Regions from separate parts of the Homo sapiens genome. Here all the other regions are linked to region 2. Evidence: fine-mapped expression QTL. A gene starts in region 2. Each other region holds a variant in brackets. All regions are shown on one strand. Distances are between the middles of the regions. Region 1 overlaps SLC22A4 (solute carrier family 22 member 4). Region 2 holds the start of SLC22A5 (solute carrier family 22 member 5). Region 3 overlaps P4HA2-AS1 (P4HA2 antisense RNA 1).

What was found. PIP is the estimated chance that this variant, and not a neighbour inherited with it, causes the effect. A credible set is the group of variants that fine-mapping cannot tell apart.
Region 1: its variant is the best candidate, but not a certain one, in a credible set for the expression of SLC22A5 in monocytes (BLUEPRINT, PIP 0.87).
Region 3: its variant is the best candidate, but not a certain one, in a credible set for the expression of SLC22A5 in monocytes after LPS (Fairfax 2014, PIP 0.83).

The regions. Positions count from the first base shown.
Region 1 is chr5:132,339,021-132,343,264 of GRCh38, forward strand. SLC22A4 (solute carrier family 22 member 4) reads left to right here. Exons shown (of 10, transcript NM_003059.3): 9 at 1,545-1,680. The region is part of intron 5 of MIR3936HG (MIR3936 host gene); the gene reads right to left. Among named protein-coding and RNA genes, the nearest start is that of MIR3936, 24 kb to the right of the region's middle. The variant G/T (reference allele first, on the strand shown) is at 2,334.
Region 2 is chr5:132,367,700-132,371,943 of GRCh38, forward strand. It overlaps SLC22A5 (solute carrier family 22 member 5), which reads left to right and starts at 2,011. Exons shown (of 10, transcript NM_003060.4): 1 at 2,011-2,666. The coding sequence starts at 2,274. It overlaps MIR3936HG (MIR3936 host gene), which reads right to left and starts at 2,217. Exons shown (of 8, transcript NR_110997.1): 1 at 2,145-2,217. RefSeq lists a silencer at 1,894-2,213.
Region 3 is chr5:132,185,741-132,189,984 of GRCh38, forward strand. P4HA2-AS1 (P4HA2 antisense RNA 1) reads left to right here. Exons shown (of 3, transcript NR_047470.1): 2 at 1,555-1,633. Among named protein-coding and RNA genes, the nearest start is that of P4HA2-AS1, 3.0 kb to the left of the region's middle. The variant C/A (reference allele first, on the strand shown) is at 2,423.

The sequences.
Region 1 (4,244 bases), 29 kb before region 2:
AAAGACAGGCGTAAGAAATTATAAAAGTATTAATTTGGGGAACTAATAAATGTCCATGAAATCTTCACAATCCACATTCTTCTGCCATGGCTTCAGCCAGTCCCTCCTTTCGGGGTCCCTAACTTCCTGCAACAGGTGTATTCATCTTTTTCTTTTTGACTTGTGCAAACTCTTTGCAATGGAAGAAATTAGCCCCTTGTATATATGTTGTAAATATTTTTCCTAGTTTACCATTTGTATTTTCACTTTATGATATCTTTGTAATGAAGACAATTTTAGTTTTTATATACTCAAAGGTGTCAATCTGAAATGAAACTACAGAGGTGTTTCAGCGGCATGTTCAATCTGATGTAGGATCTGACACCCCATGCCTGGTCCTCATTAAGGACTCTACTGGTGAGAAATGCAGACACACCTCATCAATTGGGCAATTGGTTACCTACTGGTACACACGTACACACACACACACACACACACACACACCTGAAAACATGTATGAATTCTCAGGAAAGGTATAATCCAAACCCTTACAGAGAAAGAGAAACATTTTCCTAACAAACATATTCTGCACAGTTGCCCTGTGCCACACCTGAGATAGCAGATTATACAGAGTGGTGTTATTTTTCCCTTTGTCCTTCCCTGTACTTTCAAACTATTTCAAACTATGCTCAGATGGTCCAGTGGTCAGACACTGGTACATAAGACAGGGAGTCCAAGAGTCTCCTACTCCACACAGCTACTCCTGTTAGTGACACAGAGGCCTCAGAGAAGCTGCAATAACAATATTTTCCTTATGTTTTGGGTCAAATGAAATCCATGGGTGTGCTGTTCCTCTGTAAGCTCTGTATGTATACAGGGGCAAAGCAAGATGAGGATCTGTTTTTCTCCTGTGTGAGTAAAGCTTCACAAAGAGATTACATATTAACCCAAGACATGTAAGTGCTCCAAAAAGAAGCCAAATCCAGGCACACAGTGCCTTTACAGAATGTGCCTGATACTTATAATTTACTGATTTAATCTGAAGTGAACATAATACTTAGTTGTTTTTTTTTTTTTTTTTTTTTTTTTTGAGTCTCATAGCCCTGTGGACCTAACTTTCCACTGCAGCCTACTAGTTTGGGCAAAAGCAGAGTCATGCCAGACCTATCATAGCCAAAACCTATCCCTGAAACATCCTGGTTAACCTCCTTCTCCTTGATGTCCTCCCATCCCCCATTTCCAATTACCTCCACCTTAAGAGGAGAACTCTGGTAGGCAAAGAACTCTACCAAAGGAACATCTGTCACACATGACTGAGTAGTAGCTTAGAGGATACCAGTTGACAGGAAAGAATGAAAAGCCTTATGATAATGCAAAAGGATTATAGACATGCACAATGTCATCTGCCAAAAAGAAACTGATATTTTGCTTACTTTTTTTTCTCTGAAAATGTTCAGATTTAAATCCATTCTCTTATACTGTTCACCAACTTCACAAAATGATGCTCAAGAGTGCCCAGAGAGTCCTCCTATCTGATTGATGTTCTTATGTCCCGGGCTTTACAGGTGCTTACAACAGAATGCTGCCCTACATCGTCATGGGTAGTCTGACTGTCCTGATTGGAATCCTCACCCTTTTTTTCCCTGAAAGTTTGGGAATGACTCTTCCAGAAACCTTAGAGCAGATGCAGAAAGTGAAATGGTAAGTAGGACTTTTAACAAAATGATACCAAAATGCCTTAGGGAGAATAAGCATGGAAGAATAGCTAGGAAGGTTCTGAAATAGAAGAGTAATAAGTAGAGACTAGCTCTATCAGATAATAAAGCATATTGTTGGCTGGGCACAGTGGCTCACGCCTGTAATCCCAGCACTTTGGGAGGCTGAGGCAGGTGGATCACCTGAGGTCAGGAATTTGAGACCAGCCTGGCCAACATAGTGAAACCTCATCTTTACTAAAAATACAAAAAATTAGCTGGGTGTGGTGGCAGTCACATGTAATCCCAGCTACTCAGGAGGCTGAGGCAGGAGAACTGCTTGACCCAGGAGGCAGAGGTTGCAGTGAGCTGAGATCACACCACTGCACTCCAGCCTGGGCAACAAGAGCAAAACTCCGTCTCAAAAAAAATAAATAAATAATAGGCCAGGCGCGGTGGCACATGCCTGTAATCCCAACACTTTGGGAGGCTGAGGCAGGCGGATCATGAGGTCAAGAGATCGAGACCATCCTGGCCAACATGGTGAAACCCTGTCTCTACTAAAAATACAAAAATTAGCTGGGCATGGTGGCACACACCTGTAGTCCCAGCTACTCAGGAGGCTGAGGTAGGAGAATTGCTTGAACCCGGGAGGTGGAG[G/T]TTGCAGTGAGCCAACATCATGCCACCGCACTCCAGACTGGGCAACAGAGCTAGACTCTGTCTCAAAAATAATAATAATAGTAATAAAGCATATTGTTGAGCAATAGTAATTAAAACAATGTGATAATGGTATAGGAATAGAAACCAATGGAATAGGATAGAGTTCAGGATAAAACCCAAGAAAATATAAAAATTCAGTATGTAATAAAAAGTAGCAAAGTCAAGGGGGAATAGTTATTCAGTAAAAGGTATTAGAACATTCAGCTAGACATTTTGAATAAATTAAAAAGTTGTCTCTTTAAAAAATGCATTGGCTGGGCATGGTGGCTCACACCTGTAATCCCAGCACTTAGGGAGATTGAGGCAGGCAGATTGCTTGAGGTCAGGAGTTCGAGAACAGTCTGTCCAACATGGTGAAACCCCATCTCTACTAAAAATACAAAAATTAGCCAGGCATGGTGGCGCACCCCTGTAATCCCAGCTCGCGGGAGGCTGAGGCAGGAGAATCGCTTGAACCAGGGTGGTGGATGTTGCAGTGAGCCGAAATCGCGCCACTACACTCCAGTCTGCGTGACAGAGCGAGACTCCGTCTCCAAAAAAAAAACACATCAAGATAAAATCCAGACAGTTAAAAAATTTAGGCCTAAAAATGTAAAATCATAAATATACCAGGAGGAAACAAACATTTTTATAACCTTAGAGAAGATCTTACTGAGCATAACATAAAATCAAAGAACCATAAAGGAACAGATTGATATATCTGATTGTACATTTTTTAAATTATTGGCAAGGCAAAAAGAAACCACCCACAAAGACAAAAGTCAATAAGCCAGGAGAAAATATTTGCTACACAAAACCTAAACATAAGGCTAATATACTTAATATACAAAAAGCTCATAGTAACCAGTGAGAAAAAGACAAACAATTCAGTAGGAAAACCAGCAAAGGACAAGAACAGACAGTTTACAGAAGAAGTCACTTCAGTGTCCAATATATACATGAAAAAAGTTATTTGTCCACATTAATAAGGAAATGCAAAAATAAAACAATTCAACATCTTTTTTTGGCTTATGAGATTGCGCAAGGGTTTTTCTTCTTGACGCAAACCAATTCTGACACCTATTGAGTGTCCTATAATGCAGTTCAATTTTGACAATACCTAAATTTAGCATCAGACTCCACAGGTGTAAAGACTCAGTCCCACAATACTGCCTTGCTTCACTTGCCACTCACAAATGTCAGGTCCCCAGGTTACCCACATTTCTCTCTGACTTTGCTACCAAGTCTGGGGTTCCAACAAATCCCCTCCTTGGGTTTGATTATTTGCTAGAATGACTCACAGCACTCAGAACACTGGCCACTAGCGGTTTCTTACAAAGGATACAAATGAACAGCCAGATGAAGAGGTACATACAGAGAGGTCTGGAAGGGTCCTGAGTGCAGAGGTTCTGTCCCTACGGAGTTAAGGTGCACTGCCCTCCTGGCATGTGGATGTGGTCACCAACTCGGAAGTTCTCCAAACCCCATCATTTAGAGGTTTTCATGGAGGTTTAGTCATGTTGGCATGATGGATTATTAAGTCTATCCCCAGCCTCTCTCCTCTCCCCAGAGGTTCCAGGCTTCTAATCCAGGCTTAGTCTTCTGGTGACCAGCCCCCACCCTGAAGCTATCTAAGGGCCCAGCCAAGGGTTGCCTCATTAGAACAAAAGAAGCTTTTATCACTCCCTATCACTCCAGAAATTATAAGAGATTTAGGATCTCTATGTTAGGAGCCAGGGACAAAGACCAGTATCTTTTTATGACACCACAGCAAACATTTAAAAGATTAGTGGTATTTAGGAGAAGTTTAGAGTTTCGAGTAACACTGCCTGGCTTTAAATCCCAAATCTACTGCAAAAATTTGGGCATATC
Region 2 (4,244 bases):
CATTCTTCTCATAAAAGCTTTCATTTCTTTTGAAGCATTAAAATAATATTTTAGCACACAAAAAAGGAGTTTATTTTCAAGAAGCTTTGCTTTCTTTTTCAGTTAGTTCTAGATAAGAACTATAACTTCACATAAGATGTTAGAAGGATTTAAGTACATTGCTGAAGGTATAACCATCCATCTTCAGGAAGTAAGAATAGTGAATAGTAAGTATAAAGAAACAAACAAGTCCTGTGATAACATCTTTATCATAATTTTTTTAAGTCTATTATGCTTTATGCAAATGTTTAGATTTCCTTGTTAAAAATCTGCTGGCCAGGTTAGGTTCCCTTTCTGTAGCTTTATTTTCAACTCATAATATAGTGACTATTAAATATTCTTTACTCAACACATTATATTGTAAAAATATACACTTAGTTCTGTTTCTATCACTAAGCCACTACTATTTTAAAAAGGAATATCTTGCATTGTTAAGTTTAGCAGCCCAAATTCTTAAAGGCCTTAGGAATGGTGCTGTCCAATAAGATAACCAATAGCTACATGTGGCTACTGAGCACTTAAAAAATGAGTCTGGCCAGGCATAGTGGCTCACGTCTGTAATTCAGCATTTTGGGAGGCTGAGGTGGGAGGATTGCTTAAACCCAGGAGTCTGAGACCAGCCTGGGCAACACAGGGATGCCTTGTCTCTGTAAAATAAAAAAAATAAAAAAATTAGCTGGGCACGGTGGCATGTGCCTGTAGTCCTAGCTACTCAGCAGGCTGAGGCAGGAGGCCCACTTAAGCTTAGGAGTTCAGGGCTGCGGTGAGCTATGATTGTGCCACTGCACTCTAGCCTGGGTGACACAGTGGGACCGTGTCTCCAATAAATAAATGAATAAATAAATATTAAAAAATAAAAAGTGTGGCTAGTCCAAATTGAAATGTGCTGTAAAATACACACTGGATTCCTTTTTTTTTTTTTTTCAAATCCTGAGAACCTGTGAAACACACTGAATTCTTAAGATTTAGTATGAGGAGGGGAAAAAAAGATCAATGATTTACATATAACAATGTAAAATATCAATAATTTCTATATTGATTATATGATGAAATGATCATGTTCTGGATATACTTGATTAAATATACCATTAAAGTTAATTTCATCTTTTATTTTTACTTTTTAAATATGCAGCATTGCCCAATAAAATACAGGACAACCAGTTACATTTTTATTTTATATATTCCTGCTTGGGACATAATATTTAAAAATTATTCATTCTATATCTGAAATTCAAATTTAACTAGGAGTCCTATATTTTTATTTGCTAAATCTGGCAATTTTATTAATATGGCTACTAGAAAAGTTAACATAACAAATGTAGCTCCTTATCCTATGGAACATTGCTGCTTTAGAATCACCTCGCTGCTTTTTTTTTTTTTCCAGTTAGCTTCTGAATAAACTCTGCACGGAAATAACTAATCTGTGGGGAATATTTAACCCTAGGCTAGGATCGTTAATCGTGAAGTTAAATTTTTACATCTGCATGAACAAAATGGCTTGTTACAGACGAAAATGTGGAAAGGGCATCTGGACTAGAATGAAAAGTCATAGCTCCCAGCCTCTCTACTAGGGTAGTTAACAGTCCCAGGTTCAAAATAATCCCCGTCCCTCTTATAAGATTAGGCGGTGTCAAGAGCAACTATCTGTGAGACCCTGGGCCAGTGACTTTCTCCTTACCTCCGCCCCCAAGTAGGCCTTGCAAAAAGCTGGGAGGGGTGCGTTTTCAACACTGGAGCTTCGCGGCCGCTCTCCCACTCGCTCCCCGCCCGGCGCTAGAGGAGCGAGTTCGGACTCGGACCCCAAGGCCTCGAGTCCCGCTGCCTTCCTAAGCCGAGCCCGGGCTACCTCGGTCGTCCCCAGCAGGCTTGGCTGGCAGAGGCCGGGCCTCGCCAGGTCCCCAGGACAGGCCCCGCCCGGGCCTCAGGTGCACTCCCGGCCCGCCCCGCGCCCTCGCGTCCCGCCCCAGCTCCGCCTTCGCCGGCGCCGCTCTGCCTGCCAGCGGGGCGCGCCTTGCGGCCCAGGCCCGCAACCTTCCCTGGTCGTGCGCCCTATGTAAGGCCAGCCGCGGCAGGACCAAGGCGGCGGTGTCAGCTCGCGAGCCTACCCTCCGCGGACGGTCTTGGGTCGCCTGCTGCCTGGCTTGCCTGGTCGGCGGCGGGTGCCCCGCGCGCACGCGCAAAGCCCGCCGCGTTCCCCGACCCCAGGCCGCGCTCTGTGGGCCTCTGAGGGCGGCATGCGGGACTACGACGAGGTGACCGCCTTCCTGGGCGAGTGGGGGCCCTTCCAGCGCCTCATCTTCTTCCTGCTCAGCGCCAGCATCATCCCCAATGGCTTCACCGGCCTGTCCTCCGTGTTCCTGATAGCGACCCCGGAGCACCGCTGCCGGGTGCCGGACGCCGCGAACCTGAGCAGCGCCTGGCGCAACCACACTGTCCCACTGCGGCTGCGGGACGGCCGCGAGGTGCCCCACAGCTGCCGCCGCTACCGGCTCGCCACCATCGCCAACTTCTCGGCGCTTGGGCTGGAGCCGGGGCGCGACGTGGACCTGGGGCAGCTGGAGCAGGAGAGCTGTCTGGATGGCTGGGAGTTCAGTCAGGACGTCTACCTGTCCACCATTGTGACCGAGGTGGGTGCCGGCCCCTGCTGGGGCTGAGACCAGGGCTCGGAGGACCTGTCGCGGTCCTTGAACCCGAGCTCCTCTCTCCCAGATGCGCACTGGACGCTGTCACTCCCCCTCCCCCAACGGTCAACACCCTAGCGATGGAGACCCTCCAGCCAGGTGGCTTGGGAACGCTTCACGAGGTGACCTCCAGCCACAGTGTGCTCCTCCCTGCACAGGTGGTCAGTCTGGCCTCCCGTCCTGATGGCCACTTTGAAGAGGGTACCAGGAAGGTCCTGGCGGTCCCTGGGCGATGCTCTATGGCCCTGTGTGTCCAGGACTTACTCTAGTTGGGGTTGGGGGTGGTAAGTAGCAGAGCCAGGACTTGGGCCAGGGGCTATCCCGTTTTTCCTCTAGTCTCTTGATTTCTTTTTAGAAGAGAAGAAATACTTCTCTTTCCTGAACTTTTAAAAGTTAAATAAAGCATGTGTATACAACTGCCTCTTCCCTTTTTCCTCTAGTTACTCCTTCCCCTACCGTCCACAACCCAAAAACGACAATCTGGTCATGCCCTGTAAGTAATTGTTTGCCTTTTCCCATGGTCAGTTGTCAGTCTTTTTTTTTTTTGAGACAGAGTCTCCCTCTGTCACCAGGCTGGAGCGCAGTCGTGTGTTCTTGGCTCACTGCAACCTTCGCAGTCGTGCGTTCTTGGCTCACTGCAATCTTCGCCTTCCGGGCTCAAGTGATTCTCCTGCCTCAGTCTCCGAGTAGCTGTGAGCCACGACGCCCAGCTAATTTTTGTGTTTTTAGTAGAGACGGGGTTTCACCGTGTTGGCCAGGATGGTCTCGATCTCTTGACCTCGTGATCTGCCTGCTTCTGCCTCCAAAGCTGGGATTACAACCGTGAGCCACCACGCCAGGCCGTCAGTTGTCACTCTTTAAGATCCATTCATCTGAAGATGGGTTCAGGGTGACTTGTTGACCTGGAATATTTTCTCAGGTATTATGAGGCAAGGCTGTCGGCCAGATTTAGTTAAAGCATACAGCCTTAGGTCATAGGGTGTAGGGGAGCCTTTCTCATTTCTCATCCCCTTGGATTTTCCCTCTGGGTGGTTTTGTCTGTCCCCTCCGAACCTGTTGGAGCAGTTGTTGGAGCTGGATGTAGGAACATGATGTTAATGATGTATGTGTTTTGTGTCTTTTTTAGACACTGGCACTCTAGCTCCCTGAAGTTTCAGCAGCATTGAGTAAGTAGCCAGTGAATAGCCCTCATTGATAGATAGGCTCACTAAATGTGCAGATGACCAATTCGCAGGTTAGAGAAGGCTTCCCAGAAGAGGAGGCCTCTCCGTGAGCCTAGGGTGTTCAGCTCAGCATAATAGTGAGCTGAAGGCCCCAGTGCAGCAGCAAGAAACCACCCAGCAGGACGGCGGAGTTCACAGAGAGGGGAGAGTTCATAGAGAGGGAGAGTGCCACAGGCCCTGGCACAGCTTCAAGCCCTGCTGGATGTTGGTGCTGAGCCTCCCCTCCTGGAGCCTCAGAGGGGCTTACAGGGGCTCTGGAGATCCCAACTGTGTTGCTTCTTGGCGTCATCACCCTTCAATG
Region 3 (4,244 bases), 180 kb before region 2:
TTTGCACAGATTATGAACTTATTTGGCATAACCATTTTGGGGGAAAATAATGGCTTTTCCACCCTTATATACACACCTGCTGTATTTGTCCAATTATATCCATGGCCTCAAAGATATTTTATGTCAATATCTTTTTTCAATTTATTAATAATTTCATAAGAGCCTATATCTCTTTTCTCAAAATAAAAAACTTCTAGTGTTATGACATTATTCTTATGCAAACATACTTAATAATCAGATACATTTGTTCATGATGGGCTATATCTGATGTACAAAGAGTAAGGAAAAGTATTTTGCTTTAGTCTCAATAGTATATCAGATCTAACATGATTTCCTAGTAGTTTTATGTGTTCTCCCAAAATTCATATGCTAAAGTCCTAACCCAATATGTGACTGTATTTGGCAACAGGGCATTAAAGACATAATTAAAGTAAAATGAGTTCATATGTGCAGGCTTTAATCCGATATGACATAGACAACACATAGACCAAGAGGTGACATAGACAACACACAGACCAAGCCAGGCAGTGAGGCCTCAGAAGAAACACAACCTGTTGACACCTTGATCCTAGACTTCTAGCCTCTGGAACAGTAAGAAAACAAATTCCTTTTGTTTGATCCACCCAGTGTGTGGTATTTTGTTATTGTAGCCCTATCAAATTATATACATTATAAATTCATTTTGAATTCTATTAGACAAATAAGACACAAATTCCTTTTTATGATTAGCTACATCAACATTATAGTGACTAATTCAACGAAATTAAGAAACATAACATTTGTGTTTTTCACTTTTAGAAGCAACTTACTATGGCTACTAAAATAATGTCCAAAGCATAACTGACCGGCAGTTGGGAGACAAAAGGGTATATGATACTTAATTCTATGTGTCAACTTGGCTAGACAATAGTGATCATTTGTTTGGTAAAATTCTAGTTTAGATCTTCATCTCACCATCTTAGTTTTAACCAAACAAAAAAATTTATGTTGCCAGGCAAACAAGAGAGGACTATACAAAATATAACTATCAAAAAATGGCAAAGGCAGGGGGAGGTACCATGGGAGATAGTGAATATAAACTAAATGATCATCTCTCAAATTTCTGAAGTGGAAAAATCAAGGAACAGCATTTTATAAGCATTTAATAGGCAGAAAAATTTAAAATAATTTGAAAAGGTTCCTCTAGGAAGGGGGACTAGGAGTTGGCAGTAAGGTGGGACAGCAACTATTTAGGGTAATTTCCTTTGTCCCTTATTTTTTAAGCCACGTGCATGTATTTTAAACTAGGATAGCACAGTAAACAAATTCCTGCTCATACTTCAAGACCCAGCTCCAACGGTGCCTACTGTAGTGCCAACTTCTTGGTTAAAGTAGACCTTCACTCTACTGTGCTCCTCAAGCACATTCTCTGTTACCAGACTTCTCACATTTCACACACCTATTTATGAGTCCCTTCCATTGCTCAGAATTCTTTAAAGATAAAGACAGTCTTTATGTTTCCCCATCAAATCTTTAATAACTGTTAAATGCATGAAAATATAAATTTTGTTTTAGAGCAAAGGCTTTTGGAAGCTGCCACAGTTTCATTCCCAGGTCCTCCACTTACCAGCAATGAGACTTCATGTGACCTCAGGTATATTACCTAACCTTTCTGACGTTCTGCTTCTTATGTATTCGTTCTGAAGAGTTGCTGAATGCAGTAATAGACTGTAACATCCCTAGCACAGTACCAAATGCATAATGAAACGCTCAATAACTCTTTACTGCCCTAGTGAACATATTAATGCCAAGCTCAATTAATAAGGATTGCTGAAAGCAGTGCCCTGGCTCTAAGACAGAAGTTATCTCATGCTTGTTCCCAGGACCATGCTGGGATTGATAGGCAGACATCAACATATAATAAGATTCTTTAACGGCTGATTCCATGCTTAATGTCAGAAATGCTCAAGATGAGTGTGAAGCGTCTTGTTATACTAGGTAACAAAAGAAGATATGAAAGATAAGGTTTTCTGTATCAGTATAGGAAAAATGATTTTTTAAAAAATGAATAGGCCACTTCTACTTCCAAGATAGAGTAGCTTATGGTAGACCAATTTTCATTCCTAGAATAAAGCTGAATAAAATCTCTTAAAATTGTTGGAAGACATCAGTCAATTGCTGAAGCAAAAAGAGTTTGAGCATCAAGATCCTGAAGAAGGATAAATCTTGTGGGTGAGCCAAAAGTCTGTAGTCTCTTTTATCCTTAAACAATTTACTGGCCGGGCGTGGTGGCTCATGCCTATAATCCCAGCACTTTGGGAGGCCGAGGCGGACAGATCACGAGGTCAGGAGATTGAGACCATCCTGACTAACACAGTGAACCCCCATCTCTACTAAAAAATACAAAAAATTAGCCGGGCGTGGTGGTGGGCACCTGTAGTCC[C/A]GGCTACTCGGGAGGCTGAGGCAGGAGAATGGCGTGAACCCGGGAGGCGGAGCTTGCAGTGAGCCGAGATTGCACCACTGTACTCCAACCTGGGTGACAGAGCCAGACTCCACCTCAAAATAATAATAATAATAATAATAATAATAATTATTATTATTATTATTATTATTTACTGATTGTAGCCATGGGGTAAGAATGAGGATCCAGAGCAATGGGCAACTACTAAGAGGCAGAGAAACCAAAATAATTTTTGACAGTGTCAAGGGGCATTGAAAAACCAAAATTAGCCAGTAGTTTCTCAGAATATTGAATAAGAGGGAGGAGTGGAGAACTTGGCCACTCAGCCTGTTTACCCACTGAGGCATTTTCTGAATTCTGACGCTGTGCAGAATGCAAGGCTAAGAAGGTAAGCAAAAAATATCTGCTTAGATTCAAAAATTCAAATTCTTTGAAAAGGAGGATAAATTTTTTGGGCTGAGTCTGGTACTGAGAAGACAAGAATTAGAGTTGAGGAACTGCCAGTGGAAACAGATCCAGTGAACACACTAGGCTCTCAATTAGAAAATCCTGGAGGACTACATCCTATAAGGGGGGAAATAAGGGTAAACCAGAGATAGAGTCTTAAGAAAACTACCACCCAGTCTTAATTTTAAGTCAGCTCAGATCCTTACTGGATTAAGGTGATTGATCCCCACTCTGCATAGTAGAGGAAAGGGTGAGCCCTTTGTGCAGGAGGTTATCCATCCAGAGGCTCTACAATTTGTCATACACATTCAATCAAAAATTGCCAGGCATATCAACAGAGTGGACCAAATGACCAGAAACTAAGGAGGGAAAAAGACAATAGAAAGAGAGCCATAGAAAATCGAAATCATGGCGTTATCGGACAAAAAAATTCACATAACTGATTTATCAGTCCGAGAAAAACACAGAGAAAACAGAAGACAGATTCTCCAGAGAGTTAAAATCCATTAAAAGGACATGAATGGGCCAACCGTGGTGGCTCACGCCTGTAATCCCAACATTTTGGGAGGCTGAGGCAGGTGGATCACTTGAGGTCAGGAGTTTGCGACCAGCCTGGCCAACATGACAAAACCCCATCTCTACTAAAAATACAAAAATTAGCTGGGTGTGGTGGTGCGTGCCTCTAATCCCAACTACTTGGGAGGCTGAGGTGGGAAAATTGCTTTAATCTGGGAGACAGAGGGTGCAGTGAGCTGAGATCCCGCCACTGCACTCGAGCCTGGGTGACAGAGAAAGACTCCGTCTCAAGGAAAAAAAAAAAAAAAAAAGACATGAATGGATATTTTAGAACTGAGAAATATAAGAAAAATGAAATTAAGAACTCAGTAGATGGGTTTAGCAGCAAAAGTAATAAATGAATTGCAAGACAGATCAGTATAAAATATCTAGTCTGAAACACAAAGAAAAAAGCATGAGAGACACAAGAACTGGAGATATATAGAGCACTATGAAAAGTTCTAACATTCAGATTACTGAAGTCTCAGAGCAGATAGAGAAAAAATGGGACAGAAACAATAGTTGAAGATATAATGTCTGAGAAATTTCCAAAATTGATCAGACATCAACCCAGAAATTCAAGAAGCTAAATGCCAAGCAAGAAAAGAAAAAGAAACCCATACTAAGTACACCATAGTAAAACTACTGAAAACCAAAAAGAAAAAAATCTTTAAAGCAGCCAGGTGAAGGCAAAATCACCTTCAAAGGAACAACAAAGGACCAGATAGCGACTTTTCAACAGAAATGGTATAAGCCAGAAAACAAAGAATTACATCTTTAAAGTCCTTAAACAGACTCCTGT